Homo sapiens: one gene and its partners. The protein of the gene in region 1 interacts with the protein of each later gene in a biochemical or structural test. Each region holds a gene or a part of one and is shown on either strand. Other genes may lie near its edges.

The links. Proteins that work in one complex are often made in the same cells at the same time.
Region 2: the proteins of SEMA4D (region 1) and CD72 form a complex in vitro, tested with the Homo sapiens proteins (2 studies listed by BioGRID and IntAct).
Region 3: the proteins of SEMA4D (region 1) and PLXNB3 form a complex in vitro, tested with the Homo sapiens proteins (one large-scale study listed by IntAct).
Region 4: the proteins of SEMA4D (region 1) and PLXNB2 form a complex in vitro, tested with the Homo sapiens proteins (one large-scale study listed by IntAct).

What each region holds. Positions count from the first base shown.
Region 1 is NC_000009.12:89,378,864-89,383,499, forward strand, and holds part of SEMA4D (semaphorin-4D isoform 1 precursor), read right to left. Parts: exon of another isoform or gene 2,565-4,636; intron 2,484-2,564; coding exon 2,311-2,483; intron 2,236-2,310; coding exon 2,192-2,235; intron 767-2,191; coding exon 1-766. UniProt on the Homo sapiens protein: Cell surface receptor for PLXNB1 and PLXNB2 that plays an important role in cell-cell signaling. Regulates GABAergic synapse development. Promotes the development of inhibitory synapses in a PLXNB1-dependent manner.
Region 2 is NC_000009.12:35,609,482-35,612,488, reverse strand, and holds the end of CD72 (B-cell differentiation antigen CD72), read left to right. Parts: intron 1-569; coding exon 570-685; intron 686-1,735; coding exon 1,736-1,865; 3' UTR 1,866-1,887; intron 1,888-2,188; coding exon of another isoform or gene 2,189-2,339; 3' UTR 2,340-2,507; downstream 2,508-3,007. Other genes in the region: TESK1 (dual specificity testis-specific protein kinase 1), read right to left, coding at 2,747-3,007. UniProt on the Homo sapiens protein: Co-receptor of B cell receptor (BCR) that plays both positive and negative roles on B-cell functions. Recognizes the Sm/ribonucleoprotein (RNP) self-antigen ligand, and coligation of CD72 and BCR inhibits BCR signaling.
Region 3 is NC_000023.11:153,762,800-153,767,048, forward strand, and holds the start of PLXNB3 (plexin-B3 isoform 1 precursor), read left to right. Parts: upstream 1-1,449; 5' UTR 1,450-1,505; intron 1,506-2,671; 5' UTR 2,672-2,736; coding exon 2,737-2,781; intron 2,782-3,359; exon of another isoform or gene 3,360-3,411; coding exon of another isoform or gene 3,412-3,525; intron 3,526-3,583; exon of another isoform or gene 3,584-3,672; intron 3,673-4,073; coding exon 4,074-4,249. UniProt on the Homo sapiens protein: Receptor for SEMA5A that plays a role in axon guidance, invasive growth and cell migration. Stimulates neurite outgrowth and mediates Ca(2+)/Mg(2+)-dependent cell aggregation.
Region 4 is NC_000022.11:50,276,647-50,280,187, forward strand, and holds part of PLXNB2 (plexin-B2 isoform 3 precursor), read right to left. Parts: intron 3,426-3,541; coding exon 3,359-3,425; intron 3,131-3,358; coding exon 2,984-3,130; intron 2,366-2,983; coding exon 2,209-2,365; intron 2,051-2,208; coding exon 1,950-2,050; intron 1,874-1,949; coding exon 1,789-1,873; intron 1,626-1,788; coding exon 1,471-1,625; intron 1,368-1,470; coding exon 1,207-1,367; intron 1,093-1,206; coding exon 945-1,092; intron 261-944; coding exon 196-260; intron 59-195; coding exon 1-58.

The DNA.
Region 1 (4,636 bases):
GCTGGCTTGGGGTGCTCCCCATTCTGCTGGGAGAAGCTCCCTGGCTCTACTAACGTCTCCTTCAGGCTCTGCTCACGGTCACAGAAATCTGACTTGGGCTTCTTCTTCCCAATTAGTAGGGCCGAGCGGAATTTCAAGCACTGTCTGGGCAGGTATCCCTTATAGCAGTTGTAGAAAAAGAGGCAGAGGAAGAGAACAAAGAAGAAGAGGAAGAGGGACATGAGGAGGCGGTTGTCGCTGGACTTAAGATACATGGTTTTCTCCGAGTGGAGCTGGGGGACCGTGTTGATGACGATCTTTGGTTCGCAGGATGTGCCGGTGGGCGCAGGCTTGGGAGGAAGGGTGATGGCCCCGGAGGAGGTGGCCTGCACGGCTGGGGTTGGGGGAGAAGACCCTTGGGTGGATGCCACCAACACTTTGGTGGCAATCCTACTACCTTCTGTCTGAACAACTGACAAGGTGGGGGCCACTACGGGCTTTGGAACCACCTTCACTTCCAGGACGTGCTTGGCGACCACTTGGAAGACCGTTTTGTTCTTAACCCTCTCCTCTGACAGGCACTGGTACACCCCACTGTCTCCTTCTGACAAGTTGAAGATGAGCAAGTTTTTTCTGCCCATAAGACCGTACTTGGGGCTCTCGGCCTTCAACACGCCATTCTGGAACTTCCAAAAGACCCGGGCCAGGTTGGATTTTTGGGAGCATTTCAGTTCCGCTGTGCCACCGTGCTTGAAAAAATGCTGCCGGTAACTTCCTTTACTTTTATCTGGAACATCAAAATAAACGTGCACAGCGTCAACAATCCCCATTTGCTATTTAACAACTTCTTTAAAATACCCACAAGATGACGCAAGAGTTTCACCCACTGTAGCAACATGGAATCTTCCAGAACAACTAAGGAGATAAAGACATGCGTGACCAAAAAGCAAAGATGAGCCCTGGATGACAGCCCATGGGGACAAAGAAATTGGAGGCAGCTCTGAGCAGCAGAAATCCCATTTCTCACCCGTGTCCCAGAAGAAAACGCGTCAGGCTGGGGAAGCTGAGCAGAGGCCAGTTCTGTGCCTAGTGTCAGCTCTTTGAATCAGACACGAGACGCTTCTGCTAATGGCTGCAAGGAAGACTGGCCTTTCAGTGCATCTCAGCACTCTCCTCCTGCCTAAACTTTTCTTTTTTTTCTTTTTTTTGAAACAGGGTCTGGCTCTGTTGCCCAGGCTGGAGTGCAGTGGTGCAATCACAGCTCACTGCAGCTTCAACCCCCCCAGCTCAAGGGATCTTCCCACCTCAGTCTCCAGAGTAGCTGGGACTACAGGTGACCACCTCCAGGCCTGGCTAATTTTTGTATTTTTTGTAGAGACAGGGTCTCACCACGTTGCCCAGGGTAGTCTCGAACTCCTGAGCTCAAGTGATCCTCTTGCCTCAGACTCCCAAAATGCTGGGATTACAGGCATGAGCCACTGTGCCCGGCCAGCTTTTGTTTTCTTTTTAGAGTCTGGGTCTCACTTTGTCACCCCAGGCTGGAGTGCAGTGGCATGATAAGCTCACTGAGCCTTGAACCCCTGGGCACAAGCAATCCTCCTGCCTCAGCCTCCCTAGTAGCTGGGACTACAGGCGTGTACCACCATGCCCAGCTGCCTAAACCTTTCTTAGTCTGATGACAGCTGTCTTGTCAGGGTCAGGAAGACACAGAACTGAGGGTCAAGTCTGCCTTTAGCACCCTGGAAGGTGGCTGCTGGGGAAGGGGCATCTGGCCTGATGCCACCCCTCCCTCTGGGTGTGGTGCTATTTCAGACATCCACAGGCGGGTGAATCCCAGGTGGGAGCCCCAGGGGAAACACCACCCCAGCCCTTACACTGCCTGAGGATTAATCACTCATGGGCTCCTTTCTCCCCATTTATAACAGGCTTAGGTTTTGCTTAATGAGCCCCAAGCTAAGCAGAAAGAAAACAGGATGGTTTTGGAAGGAGACTGCTTCCCAGTAAGCAGATACACTCTAAGTGGCTTCAAGTACTCTTTCGGCAAGAAAAAAAGACAGAGAAGACCACGAGTCTGCTACAGAACACTTGACCTCTGTTCCGAGTGGAGAAAGAAAAACAAAACACACACAAATGCCACAGAACTGAAGCACCGTGAAATGGCTACAAGACCTCGCCACTCCCAAAGGAAATGGGACGTCGAGGAGTCACTCACCCGGGCACACAGAAGCATCGCCGCTCATCTCCTGAATCAAACCCCTGCAAAACAACCGGCACGTGTTATTCACCCACACACATGGGGGACATCCCCAGGCAGCGCATCCCGCCCCATACCTGCTGGGGCTCTCGGTCTGGTGCAGAGCCACGCAGGTCGCTGTGGGCGGGCTCCAGGCGCAGTAGGGGTCCCGCGCCAGCACACAGTCCTCGCAGGTGCCGTGCTTCCCACAGAAGGCCAGCGGGGCCTGGACCACGCCCGAGTTAGAGCCAGCATAGACAAACCTGTTGCCCTGCGTGTATGAGACAGAGAAGAACTAGCATCAGGCAAGCAGGCATCCAGGAGCATGGCCTCTGCTTCTGCACCAGTGTGTGGGAAGCAGCCAGAGTGTACCTTCAGGGGACATTGCAGTAAGGAGGAGAGGTACTCAGAACCAGAGGCAAACAAGGCAGGTCTGTGACCTTCCTGCAGAATCCACGTGCTATGTCAGGGCTCACTGGGCCTTAGGTCCAAATCCCTCTCTCCCCTGTCTGGGCACCCACAGGTGCCTGCCCTCCAGCAAAGCGCTTCTCTGCACGTGTTTCTCTTAGCCAGTGGGGAGGCTGTTCAGTCCCCACCTCCAGATCTCCTCCCTGCAGCAGAGGATGCATGAGCCTGGCACTCCCGGTCATCTTCCCGGCCTCACTATAGGTGAGAAGGGGCTGCAGCCAGAGGCTGAAGCACACCACCTCGAAGCCCAACCTCGTCCCCCGAGCCAGAATGTGAGCACCTGTGGGCGGGGAGCCTCTCGTGAGGGTCTGGATCCAGCAGAGGCCTAACATAACAGGGATGCCAAACGGACGACATGCAAAGGATGAGGAGATCGTGATACAAAACATAAAAAAGGAACAATGCCTTTTGCTTTTCACTTATCTATATGTAAAAGGGAAGAGCTCACAGACGGGAAGTCAACCTCCGAGCTCCAGAGCAGCCACACCCACAGCAGAGGGCAGGTGAGACTCTCCCACCTTCTGGGACACTTGGTTCCCAGTGACACCAGCTTCAGGTCCATCCCATCAGCCCACCTGGCACCAGCAGTGCCCAGCACACAGGCATCCAGGGCTGCTGACTGCTTTTGAACGGAACTCAGCTGGAAGGAGGGTGCCCCACATGCAGTGCACCCACCTGAAGCTCGGGGGCGTGCAACAGACCTGGAGGTGGCCCGTGGAGCGCGCTCTCTAGCCTCTGCCCAGGGCATCTGCCTCAACAGCCTGGGGACACCTTTTGGTTAACAATACAAGATTCCCAAATTTACACATGACTTAGTGGTTTACAGTCAGATGAAACACGACCTTCATCCTCAGAGGATACGCTCGGAGTCAACTTCAGAGTGTGGTTGGAAGATCACAGGCCCTGATGCCAATACAGGAAGCCCCAGGCCACACATCCAGCTGTGCGGACACAGACCCACGAGAGAAAGGGAAAGCCCCCAAGGATGGAAACTGTGATAATACACAGCAGAGGGAACCTGGCCCGCCGCTGGCCTCACAGCAGCAGCAGCAGCAGAGACCTGGGCAGATGAGGCCATGTGTGAGCCACGTTTGTGGGAAGGATTGAGGATGACATCCCAGATCACAGTTCGGGCATCGCGCGGCTTGTGGAGGTGGCGGAAACATTCTCTGGCAGCAAAGCCAAGCTGGGTAACTTCCAAGGGACAGCTGGTCCTGTTGGGTCCCGCGGGGGGCACCTGCGAGGTGGCGTGAACACCATGCAGTGCAGAGCAGGGTGCCCTGGGTGGCCAAGTGGGGCCCGCCTGACTCCTCACCCCAAAGAGAGGCTTGAGGGTAGCTGTGGAGGGTGGGGTGGGCTCTGGGGGGCAAGGCCTGTCCCAAGGGGATCCAGACCACCTCCTGCACCCTGCGGGAGACTCAGCCCCAGCTTCCGCTTCTCCCGGATGGGGCTGGGCTGCAGCCCAAATGAAACTAAGCTGTAAAAACTAAACGACGCCACACAGAGACCAAGGGATGACTGTGGAAGGGAAGAGGGGACAGGGAAGGAGGAACTGGTCGTCAGGACAGCCAGCTGTAACTGCTGCAGGCAGGACCCACTGGTCGATGTGGATGTCAGTGGGTGGGAGAACAGGGCATTTCTGTAGCCTCCAAGTCTGTCCCTGCAAATAAGCATGAATGACTGTGGGGGTTTCCCACATGACTCCCCTGGGAGGTGGGGCTCACTCTCCCCCACCCCCAGTGTGGACTACATGCCCCGACACACTCGACATGGAAAAAGACGGTGGTGACTTGGACAGAATGACCAAGGTCATCACGCTGGTGCGAGTCATACAGATGCCCCATCCCCAGAAAGCGCCCTCTTTGGTGCTCCCCCTAAAACCACGACCCCAAGATAATCACAAGAATACACCAGACACACCACAAAACACCAGACTACTCCTCTCCAGGAGTGCTG
Region 2 (3,007 bases), about 54 Mb from region 1:
CTCAGCCTCCTGAGTAGCTGGGACTACAGTCACATGCCACCACGCCCAGCTAATTTTTGTATTTTTAATAGAGTCGGGGTTTCACCATATTGGTCAGGCTGGTCTCTAACTCCTGGCCTCAGGTGATCCACCTGCTTCAGTCTCCCAAAGTGCTGGGATTATAGGTGTGAACCACTGCGCCCGGCCTCTACTTTAATGTGTATCTCATCTCAGCTTGCTGGTCAGCTCCCTGGGCTGCTTGACAGGTTCCTGGACTCTTGTGGCCTCTCAGGCAGAGAGGTCCCACACCTGGTGGGCTGGATTGTAGGGATTAGTTCCTTGGGGCCAGAACAGCACACAGAATGACTCCCCTCCAAAGGCTGGCAGAGATTCTTACTCAGCTGGAAGGCAAATTTAGCAGTGAGCCTGCATCTGCAGGGTGGCACTTGATGGATTCAGGGACAAGTTACCAAAGAGCTGTCATATATACAGCCCCCTTGCCAAAGCTGAGGCCTCCCTAGGGTGTGCATTTTCTTCCATATTTCTCATCACTCTCCATGTATCTCTGGTCTCTCTGAATCTCCCCTCAGCACTCTTACTACTTCTTAAATTCACTGTTGCCAAATGGTGGTTCAGGGAATTCATATTGGACTGGCCTCAGCTCTAACAAGGATTGGAAGTTGACTGATGATACACAACGCACTAGGTAAGTTTGTTAGGACTTCTGGGTATTTTCAACTCCATAATCCCCTCCATAAAGACATGGTAATCAGATTTCCTTCCCACCTGGTCCCCTCAGGACTCTCCCATAAATCAACACTGTAATTGCCTATTTGTCTGTTTCCTCTATTTGATTAATAACTTCTTAGGGCAATCTTATTCTCCATTCTATTTCCACCTAGAAGTCCCTGGCACATACTTTTTTGTTTCAGTAACTACTAGGTTGGGACCTACGCTATCTTTTAGGGGGAGACATTAAGGATTTAGTTAAGGCTCCACAGCTGATGACAGCAGCGTTTCTCCATCCTTCGAGAAGGCCACCCAAACTGAGGTTGTACTTTCTCAGTAGCGGCCACTTGGGGCACTAGAGCTGCCTCAGTGAAGTACGCAAGGGAGCAGCGGGGGTACCATCGAAGCTCCACTTCACTGTGATCAAGACAGCAGTGGGGTACCATTGAGGATCAACCCTAGGGACCCTGAAACAGGGTGGCAACCTCCTTATGTTCCTCAATTGGCCTTCCCATCTTTTTTTTTTTTTTGAGATGGAGTCTCGCTCTGTCGCCCAGACTGGAGTGCAGTGGTGCAATCTCAGCTCACTGCAAGCTCCGCCTCAGGGGTTCACACCATTCTCCTGCCTCAGCCTCCCCAGCAGCTGGGACTACAGGCGCACACCGCCATGCCCGGCTAATTTTTTGTATTTTTAGTAGAGACGGGGTTTCACCGTGTTAGTCAGGATGGTCTCGATGTCCTGACCTTGTGATCCACCCGCCTTGGCCTCCCAAAGTGCTGGGATTGCAGGCATGAGCCACCGTGCCCAGCCTGGCCTTCCCATCTTTAAGATCTCGAGTTATTTTTCCCTCTGCTGGTTCTAAAGTCTGTTTTAGTTGAACTCCAGACATCTGTCCTGAACCATGCCCAGATGTGGCCTTAGGCAGGCAGGGTGAGTTAGGATTTAGGTTTTATACAGGGGAAGGGGAGAGAAGGGAGGGTGGGATATGTCCAGAGCATATCCCAGCTCTACCTTACTACTTTTTAGGACTTATGCTCAAAGCTCAAAATGTAACAAGGTACATAAAACTTGGTCATGGTGGACACTGGAGTCAGAGTCATGTAGAAGTTCTCTTCCCTACATCTGTGAGATGACAGCTTTCAGGTTTCCAGATTAGGACAGTCCTTTGCACTGAGTTGGTAAGAGTGAGGGATGGGGCTGAGGCATGGGGAGTCCAGGGGCAGAGGGACTCAGAGCAGGGACTCAGAGCAGGGGCCCAGGGGCCCGAGAGAAAACTTGTACCTGGGATGAAAGTTCCTCCACAGCCTCCAGTTGCTTGGTCTGCTTGTTAGGGTGGGGTGGGCAGGGAGGGACAGGTAAGGCCTACAACTTATGGGAGGCTGGTGGTGTGGCTGTCGAGAGCTGAGGAGGAGATGGGGTGAGTGGGATGAGGGTTCAGTTAAGTCAACCATGGAGCTCACTGATACTTTACTTTTCCAGACACTCATGCCAACAAGAACCTGTGCCCCTCCTTCCTAACCTGAGGCCTGGGGTTCCTCAGACCATCTCCTTCATTCTGGGCAGTGCCCAGCCACCGGCTGACCCACACCTGACACTTCCAGCCAGTCTGCTGCCTGCTCCCTCTTCCTGAAACTGGACTGTTCCTGGGAAAAGGGTGAAGCCACCTCTAGAAGGGACTTTGGCCTCCCCCCAAGAACTTCCCATGGTAGAATGGGGTGGGGGAGGAGGGCGCACGGGCTGAGCGGATAGGGGCGGCCCGGAGCCAGCCAGGCAGTTTTATTGAAATCTTTTTAAATAATTGCACGTGTTAGTCTCATGTGTCAGCAATGCTGTGTCTGGTTCAGTGATCCCCACGGGAACGCGAGCCGGGGGGTCGACTGGAAGTGCTCTGTCCCTTGAGTCCATGCTGGGGCTCCCCTACACGGGGAGAAGAGCCGGTCAGCCCATCTGGAACTGGCACTGTCCAGCAAGTGTGCTCTGTTCTTACAGGGTGTCCTGAAGGCCAAAGTTGGAGGCCTGAGACCACGGGCTCCACTGCTAAGAGCGTGCCCCAGGCAGCTGCAGGCTGGGTGTGGGTGGCTTGGCGTGGTGCCCTCGGTGGCAGAGGAGACTGCCCGCCTCACAGTTCAGGTTGCGGTAGCGGGCAACAGCTGGTGTGGGGCGGGGGCACATGGACAGGAAGCCAAAGCTGAAGGGGCCGAGGCAGCAGCCAGGACAGGGCAGCCCCTCATCGGGCTCCCGGGGAGCTGAAGGGGGTGGCGAGGGTTCTGTCCGCTCCAGGGCTGCCGCCCGGGGCAG
Region 3 (4,249 bases), on another chromosome or scaffold:
GCATGGGGGGAAGGACAGGGAGAGGGAGAGAGGCCAGCTGGCTCCCCCAAGCCTCCCCTCCTGGAGCTTCTAAATCCCTCCCTGGCTCCTTCAAGGCTGCCTGGCCTTCCTGTTGGGGAGAGACCCCTCGCCGGCTGCTCACTCGCTTTTTGGTGGTCCTTCCCACGGGCCTGCCTGGTCTGCCTCCACATCCTCAGCGGCTGCAGGTGAGAAGCTGTGGATCTGGGGCCCAGTGGTCCAGAGCGTGGCCCGTGCCAGAATGCCCAGGTTCAAATCCCATCTCTGTGGAATGCACTCTGAAGAAACGACGTCAGGTCATGGCCCTGGGCAAGTTACCCACCTCTGTGCCCCATTTCTCTCCATGCAGGTTGGAAAGAATGACACAGCTGCTCAGGGAAGCACCCATACCCCGAGTCTGCTGGGCCTTTGAGCTCCAGGGCCAACACCTGGCCCTATACCCTGGCCGCCCCCAGGGCTCCAGCCACCTGAGCCAAGCTTCTCACCCCCAGGCCTCCCCAGCCCCATCACCATTTCCTCCTCCCTCATGGGCCCCTCAGTCTTACCGTCCTCCCACTTCCGCCAGCCCCTCTGTGGATGGCCCTGCCACAGGGGGAACAGTGCCCCAGCAGAAAAGCCCCAGGGTCGCCTGGATTCTCCTGCCTTCGCCTCCTGCCCTGGGTCCAACGCACAGTCTTCAGAATGCTGCCTCCCCAGAGCGCCTCTAGAACGCGCCCGCCTCTCTCCATGCCCATGACCACCACTGGACCAGGCCTCCCCACATTCTCTGCCCCAGTGCCACCAGCTTGCAGTTGCCCATGGCGAGACAAGTTCAAGTTCTCAAGCCTGGCCACAAAGACCCCACCTGATTTGCTGACCTCCGCCACACCCTGGGAGACGGCCCTTGACCAACCTTGTGTTCCAGTCGGTGGGAAACACTGGTTTTTCCTCAACGCCACGTGGGCATGTCACGTCCAGGCCTGGCCTGGGGTAGGCCTCAGCTCCATCTCCTGCCCAACGCCTGCCAAGGTTCATGGTTCAAGGTCATGTAGCCTGACGGTTAAGTGAAGGGGCCCTGTGATTGACTCAGCCTTGCCACATACTAGCTGTGTGACTTTATTCAAGTTTCCTAACCTCCTGTGCCTCAGTTTCCCAACCTGTGTTTGTTTCTGGATGGTGCCAGTGCCAAGCCCAAGCCTGGCATCCAGTAGGTGCTTCGTGCCAGGTTATGGAATGCCCACCCAATAGGAGGGCGCTGCCGTCTCTCACCTGCCAGGTGCCCACGGTCAGTACTCCATCATGCCCGCTGCGGCCAGCAGAGGGCAGCAACATCCTGCCCTGTGCCATTGGGCAAAGGGGCGGGCGGAGAGAGGCTGGGCTGCCTGGCCGGGCTTGTTGGGATGAGTCGGACTGGGCACGATTGCATTGTGGGGAGGGAGGCTGGGGCTCTGTGAGACGTGCTCCTGGCACCGCCAGCTGCTACTTGGCCCTCGCCGGTGGCCCACCAGGTAGGCAAGAGCTGGGGCAGGCTTGGGCTTGGGCTTGGGGTGCAGGGGCTACCAGCCTCAGGGCAAGGCATCAGGGTCTCAGGGCCAACTGGCTGGGGTCAGGCAAGAGCGCTCGGGTGTCGGCCCAGCCTGACGACGGCACTAGGTGTCTGGGAGCACGGTGTCCCCCAAGTGGTAGCCCTGGGGTTAGGAGGTGGGGAACCATGTTTCTTCCCCGAAATGGGAAAGCCAACGCCAGCCTCGGGCAGGGTACAGGGTAGAGAGGCTGCCCGCCTGGCTCCCCACCCCCACAGCCACCCAACTGGCCCAGCCAGGTGACAGCAGCCCACTGCCACCTTGCCCTGGAGCCTACTGCTGCCGTGCTGTGGGGGAGGCAGAGACCCCATCCCCAGTGCACCTGCTCCTGTGCCACTGGCCAGGGTGGCCTGTGAGGGTGACAGGGGGTCTAGCTGCTAGGTGCCCCTCCCTTCCCCATCCCCTGCATGGATGGCATCTAGGCCAGCAGGACGGTGCTTCAGAGGGTGGGGTGGACAGCCCCGGCCTGTGGACCCTCTGCCTCAGCCCATCTCAAGCAGCCTCCTCCCGTGGTCCTGCTCGCTGCCACCATGCTGTACCTGGCACCACTTCACCAGTCCCCAGGGGCAGGGCTGGGCTGGGGGTGTGGAGGAAGATCTTTTGGACAAAGGCAGGCATTGAGGGCCAGGACTGGCACTTCACCCAGGCCCCAAGGCTACCAGCCGGCATTTGCAGGGGCTCCAAGGTCCACCCCGTGCCCTTCACAGGGACCCGGGGAGCCAGGGAGGGGCATGCTTAGTGACACAGGGGTTGCAGGGCCAGAGGGGGAGGGCTGGCTGGAGGAAACCCCGGCCCTTTGTCCCCGGATCCCGGGGGTGGCTCCCTGAGGGTGGGAAGTGGCAAGGAGCCCCCTGTCCAGAACAGCCCAGTGGGGGTGACAGCACTAGCGAGTGGGGCCCTGGCCTGGCCTCTGGACAGAGGGAACATTGTTGTGGTGGAGGCAGGGCTGCCTTGGCCTGGCCACTATTGACAAAGCTGCCAGCTGTGAGGGAGCCCGGTCGCTAGGCCCTGGGCGCCACCCCCACCGCCGCCCCTCCTTCCCCAGGCCAGCTCGAATGGGGCTGAGCCTCGACTGTCTCCCTCCCACTCAGGACAATGCCCCCCCGCAGCCATCTCATGCCCATCGCCACTGCCCTGGGGCAGCTGAACTGAGCGTATGTGCCACGCCGCCCAGGAGACCCCTCTGCTGCACCACTTCATGGTAAGTGCCCAGGCCCGGTGTCCCCAGAAATGTTCCTGGGAGGGGCAGGGTAGGGCAGGATGGCTGTGGCCAGGCCCAGGACATACAGGCTGCAGCCTCCCTCATGGCAGACACTGCCCCAGATAGCCCGGGGTCCGCAGGAAGTGTCCGTGCTCTTCCTGCCTGTGTTCCTGAGATAAGCGGCTCCTGGGCCTTCCTCCAGGCGCTGCTCTGCCCTGAGTCGCAGCGGCCCCACTCCTGGTCGGCATGTGACCACACACCCAGGGCAGCATCTCTCTGTGGAGGGCAGGAGGGGCCAGAGAAGGGGCTGCTCCCACCTCTCACCCTCGGGGGCTCACCCCGGGGTCCCACCAGGCACACCCAGGAACCATCTCCAGTCTGGCACCCCTCCCTGCCCCTTCCCTGACCCCTCCCCCAGCCAGCTCTCCTGGTCTGCTCTTCTCCTGGGACACTCCTACACTGAGGCCCCCTGTGCCAGGCCCTGAGAGACCCAAACTGCTGGGGCCCATGGGGCAGGAGCAGGCCTCCCCGCACCCCTGAAGCCTGTGTTGTCTCTTGACACCCCTGGCTTCTCCCAGCACCCCCGCTGCCTTGCCCCAGTGCTTCCTCGCCCTGGAGCTGGGCGCCAGCATGGAGCTCACCCCTGCCTCTTCGCTGACTTGCTCCTTGCTCAGCCCGCGGCTGCCTGGCTCTTTCCCCCAGCTGCGGAGGGTTCCTCCTTGCAGCCGGCCCTGGCTGCCCAAGGCAGGTTTTCTCTCCCTGTCTGGTCCCTTGGGGCACACGGTGGCCTCACTCCTCTCACCTGACTTAGATCTCTCTTGTCTGGGTGGTGGGCGCAGGGGCGCGCTGTGACACAGCTTCCGCCAGCCTTCCAGCTCCCGCGGCCTCCCTCCCTCCCCTGCCCTCTCTCCATCCCTGCCCCCTCTGTGACTCACAGTCCCTCTGTTAGCGCTCTTGCGGCTTTCCAGGACCTGCCCCCCTTCAACAATCTACATGCATATAAAGTAGGAGATGAAAGAATTCTGTCCTTGTGTGCTTGTGCGTGCGTGCATGCACCCCTCCCTGCCTCTTGCTCCAGCTCTTGGACACTGTCTTTGTCCCTCCTTATGTCCCCCTCTCTCTGTGCCCCCTCTGTCTCCTTGTCTCCGCTCACTCTCTCTCATTCTCCATCTCTCTGCCTCCCTCCCTCCCTGGCCCTGAGCACCCTGGCCTCTGTCCACCCCACCTTCCACCTTCCTCTGGTCCTCTATCTGCCTTGCGCTCCCACTGCCCTGACCTGTGCCCTCTCACAGGCCCCCGTGATGGCTCGCTGGCCTCCCTTCGGCCTCTGCCTCCTCCTGCTGCTGCTGTCCCCACCGCCACTGCCCTTGACAGGGGCCCATCGCTTCTCCGCACCTAATACCACTCTCAACCACTTGGCACTGGCACCTGGCCGAGGCACACTCTATGTCGGCGCAGTGAACCGCCT
Region 4 (3,541 bases), on another chromosome or scaffold:
GTGTGTGTTCATGTCCTGGTCGCTGACCTGCACCATCTGCCGGATCCCCTTGTAGTAACTGCAGGGGTGGGAGCATCATACAGTGTGGGCGGCAGGGACCACAAAGGGGGTGGTGGGGGAAACCAAGGCCTGAACCTCCCCGCAGGGGGTCGAGGGTGGGCATGGGGGCCTGGCCTGGAGGGCAGGCAGACTTACTCCTCCACCATCTTCTTGTAGGTGGAGATCTCCTTGGCGTACAGCAGCTTGTTGCTGGGAGAATCCTGTTGGGGACAAAACCCAGTGATGCCTGGCCAAGGGGGCCAGGCTGGGGCTGCTCAGAGTACCCCTGGGTAGCTTCCCCTGCCCCGAACTCCTGACACTTTCATCAAGAAAACTATGGGCCGGGCGCAGTGGCTCAGGCCTGTAATCCTAGCACTTTGGGAGGCTGAGGCAGGCAGATCACCTGAGGTCAGGGGTTCGAGACCAGCCTGCCCAACATGGTGAAACCCCGTCTCTACTAAAAATACTAGCCGTGCGTTGTGGCACATGCCTGTAGTCCCAGCTACTCAGGAGGCAGCGGCGGGAAAATCGCTTGAACCTAGAAGGCGGAGGTTGCAGTGAGCAGAGATCGCGCCACTGCACTCCAGCCTGGGCGACAGAGAGAGACTCCATCTCAAAAAAAAAAAAAGAAAACTACTTATTTTGTGATCTGTAGTAAAACTCAGTTTCTCTGCTCGTGTGCTGTGGTGAGAGGTCTCAGGAGGAGAGAGGGCAAGGGCTCTCGGGATCTCCCAGGCTCTGCCGGGCCCCTGTGCCCCCAGCCTCCGCCACCCGTCACCTCCTACATCAAGGGCTCCAGCCCAAGATATTCAAATCCACACCCCAGACAAGGTCCCAACTCACAAGATGCCTCCTGGGGACAGACCCAGGCCTCCCTGCCCCAGACCTGCCCCCACCCCACTCACGCGGCTCAGCTTATGCTCCGTGCGCGTGCAGGCATCCATGAAGGTCTGCGCGATGACTGACAGCGAGGCGTCCACCACCTCGTGGACATGCACGTCAAAGATGAAGTGGGGGTTCTTGAGGATGTTCACCCAGAACCGGAGCGGTAAGCTGAGGCAGAGCAGCAGGGAATGAGAGCCGGGGCTGGGCCGCGGGGTGGGTGTGGAGCCTCCCAAGTGAGAGGCGGAGCCGGGGCTGGGCCGCGGGGTGGGTGTGGAGCCTCACCTGTTCGTCTTCCAGATGTGGATGGTGTCTTCATCCTGGATGTTGTGCTTCTCTGCCTGCTCGTCCAGGAAGTCGAAGAAGTACTTGACTGCAGGTGGCACCGCGTGCCCAGGCGCCAGCACGCTCTGGAAGAAGTTGTCCACAAACTGCTGCAGTGTGCCCTGTGGGGGGGAGGGTCTCAGCGTGACGCCGTGGGCGCGGCTCCTGGGGGGGAGGGTCTCAGCGTGGCGGCCTGGTGCCGCCCACACACCCATGGGGGCCCACCTTGACTGAGAGCAGCCGCGTCAGGTAGATCTCGGTGATGGCCTTCGTCCGCTCCTTCTCTTTCACGCTGCCTCTCTTGGACTTGCCCTCGTCCACCTCGTCGGTCGGCCGCACCAGGTGCCACACCCGGTTCTCCTCCTCCAGGAGGGCATGGCCTGTGGGGAGCGGGCACTGAGGGACCCCTACCCAGGTCTGGGGGCCTGGGTCCCACAGGGAGCAGTGGTGGCAGGGTGGGCAGGGGTGCATGTGTCCAGGGCAGACATGGTCCACGCTGACCACCAGGGGCTGGAAGGAAACGGGCAACAGGGAGGGACTCACGCTCCCCAGGCAGGTCCTGCTGGCTGTCCTCCGGCTGCTGGGAGACCCCCACCTTGGACAGGATGAGGGTGGCTCCATCCCGGACCTGGGGAACACGGCGGTGAGGGTGGGCTGTGCCCCCAGGGTGCCCAGTTCTCGCCCGCCCCGGCCTACACGCTCACATTGTAGTGCATAAGGGTGTTGACGCGCTTCCACCGGCCCTCCCGCTGTGACGTCAGGTCCAGGTCCGACAGGATCTGCGCTGTGGAGCCCGGACGCCACTCTGTGGGAAGAGACAGCCCAGCTTGGGCCCCAGCCACCCAGGTTCCTCCCACTGCCCACCACTCCCATATGAGAAAGCTGGCCAGGCAGGATACCGCCCCAGGACACAGGCCAGGCACATGGGCGCCTGTGTGCAGACGGGCAGGGGCCGGCACTCACCCAGGACCACGCTGTCTGGCCTGGGCCAGCAGGAGCAGGGCTGCCCACGGTACACCTGGTCAATGATCTTCTCCTTGACCTGGGAGATGGTGTCACAGTTGAGGACCTTCACCGGGATGGCGTCCACTCCCTCGTCCTGCACGATCACGCTCACCGTCTGCCGAGACATCCGGGATGAAGCCCAGTGGGAGGCCCTGCTCTTACCTGCACCATGCAGGAGCCACTCCCTGCCCCGCCAGCTTTGCCCACCACAGCGGCACCCTTGGGCAGCAGGCCCCCGCCAGCCCGGCTCCGAGCCCCCGAGGCTTCCCAGATGACCACACTCTGCCCTTCCCCTGCCTGCTCCGGCTCAGCAGGACAGAAAGACGGGGACGGCTCAGAACCGCTCACTCAGGCTGTCACGCAAGCTCATGGAAGCACATGTACAGACACAGAATACACACGTCTCACACATGCACAGGCTCCTGCCACACCCACTGGTCATGTATGCACAGAACCCTGGACACACCTGGTGTGCCAGGCCCTTGTATGGCCTCCAGGAGGTGGGGGCGCCCGGGAAGAGCTGATGCGGGGCCCGCACACTTAGAGCCTCCAGAGCCCACAGCCACCAGCACCCAGGCCCCTCCCTGAGGCCGAGTTAGAGCAGGCTGTAACTCGAATCCACAGAGGAGGTGGACGGCCTCTGGCCTGTGGGTCCCATCTGTGGCCAGGGGATGCCCAAGCTCCTTAGCCCAGATCCGAGGCGCCCATGGCGGCCCCCACCCCAGAAGCTCACCAGGGGTGCGTACTCCACATCATCCCCCAGCAGCCCCGTGTCGTTGAGAGTGTACTTGGCCTTCTTCTGTACCGCATCCACCGGGCCCTTTTCCACCTGATGTTTGATGGCCTTGAAGAGCTTGTACAGGGGCTCCCCGGCACTGTCCTGGAGTAACACGGAGGGGAGGCTGGGAGGTCAGGGGACTTGGGGCCTGGAAGGGGCCCCCGGAGCCCTGGCCAGAGGCATGGACGGGGCTGACCATGTCAGGGGCAGGAAGCAAACCTGTCCAGGCAGGGCCCACCTCAAGGTGCCGTACAGATAGGGGAACGCAGGAGGGGATGGCAGCAGTCTGCCTCATCCCTCAAGCCCCAGCCAGGCTGGGGTGGAACCCACCTTGAGGTACTGGTACAGGCAGATGGACATCCAGTTGGACAGCATCCTCTCCACCACAGTCTCAGACCTGGGGGTGCAGGGAGGCCTTGTACCGAGTGACCCCGTAGTATTCCTGAGGCCCAACTGACTCCTCCAAGCACCCGGCCACCCTTGCGCCAGCCTCGCCCCTGTCCAGCCTGGGTG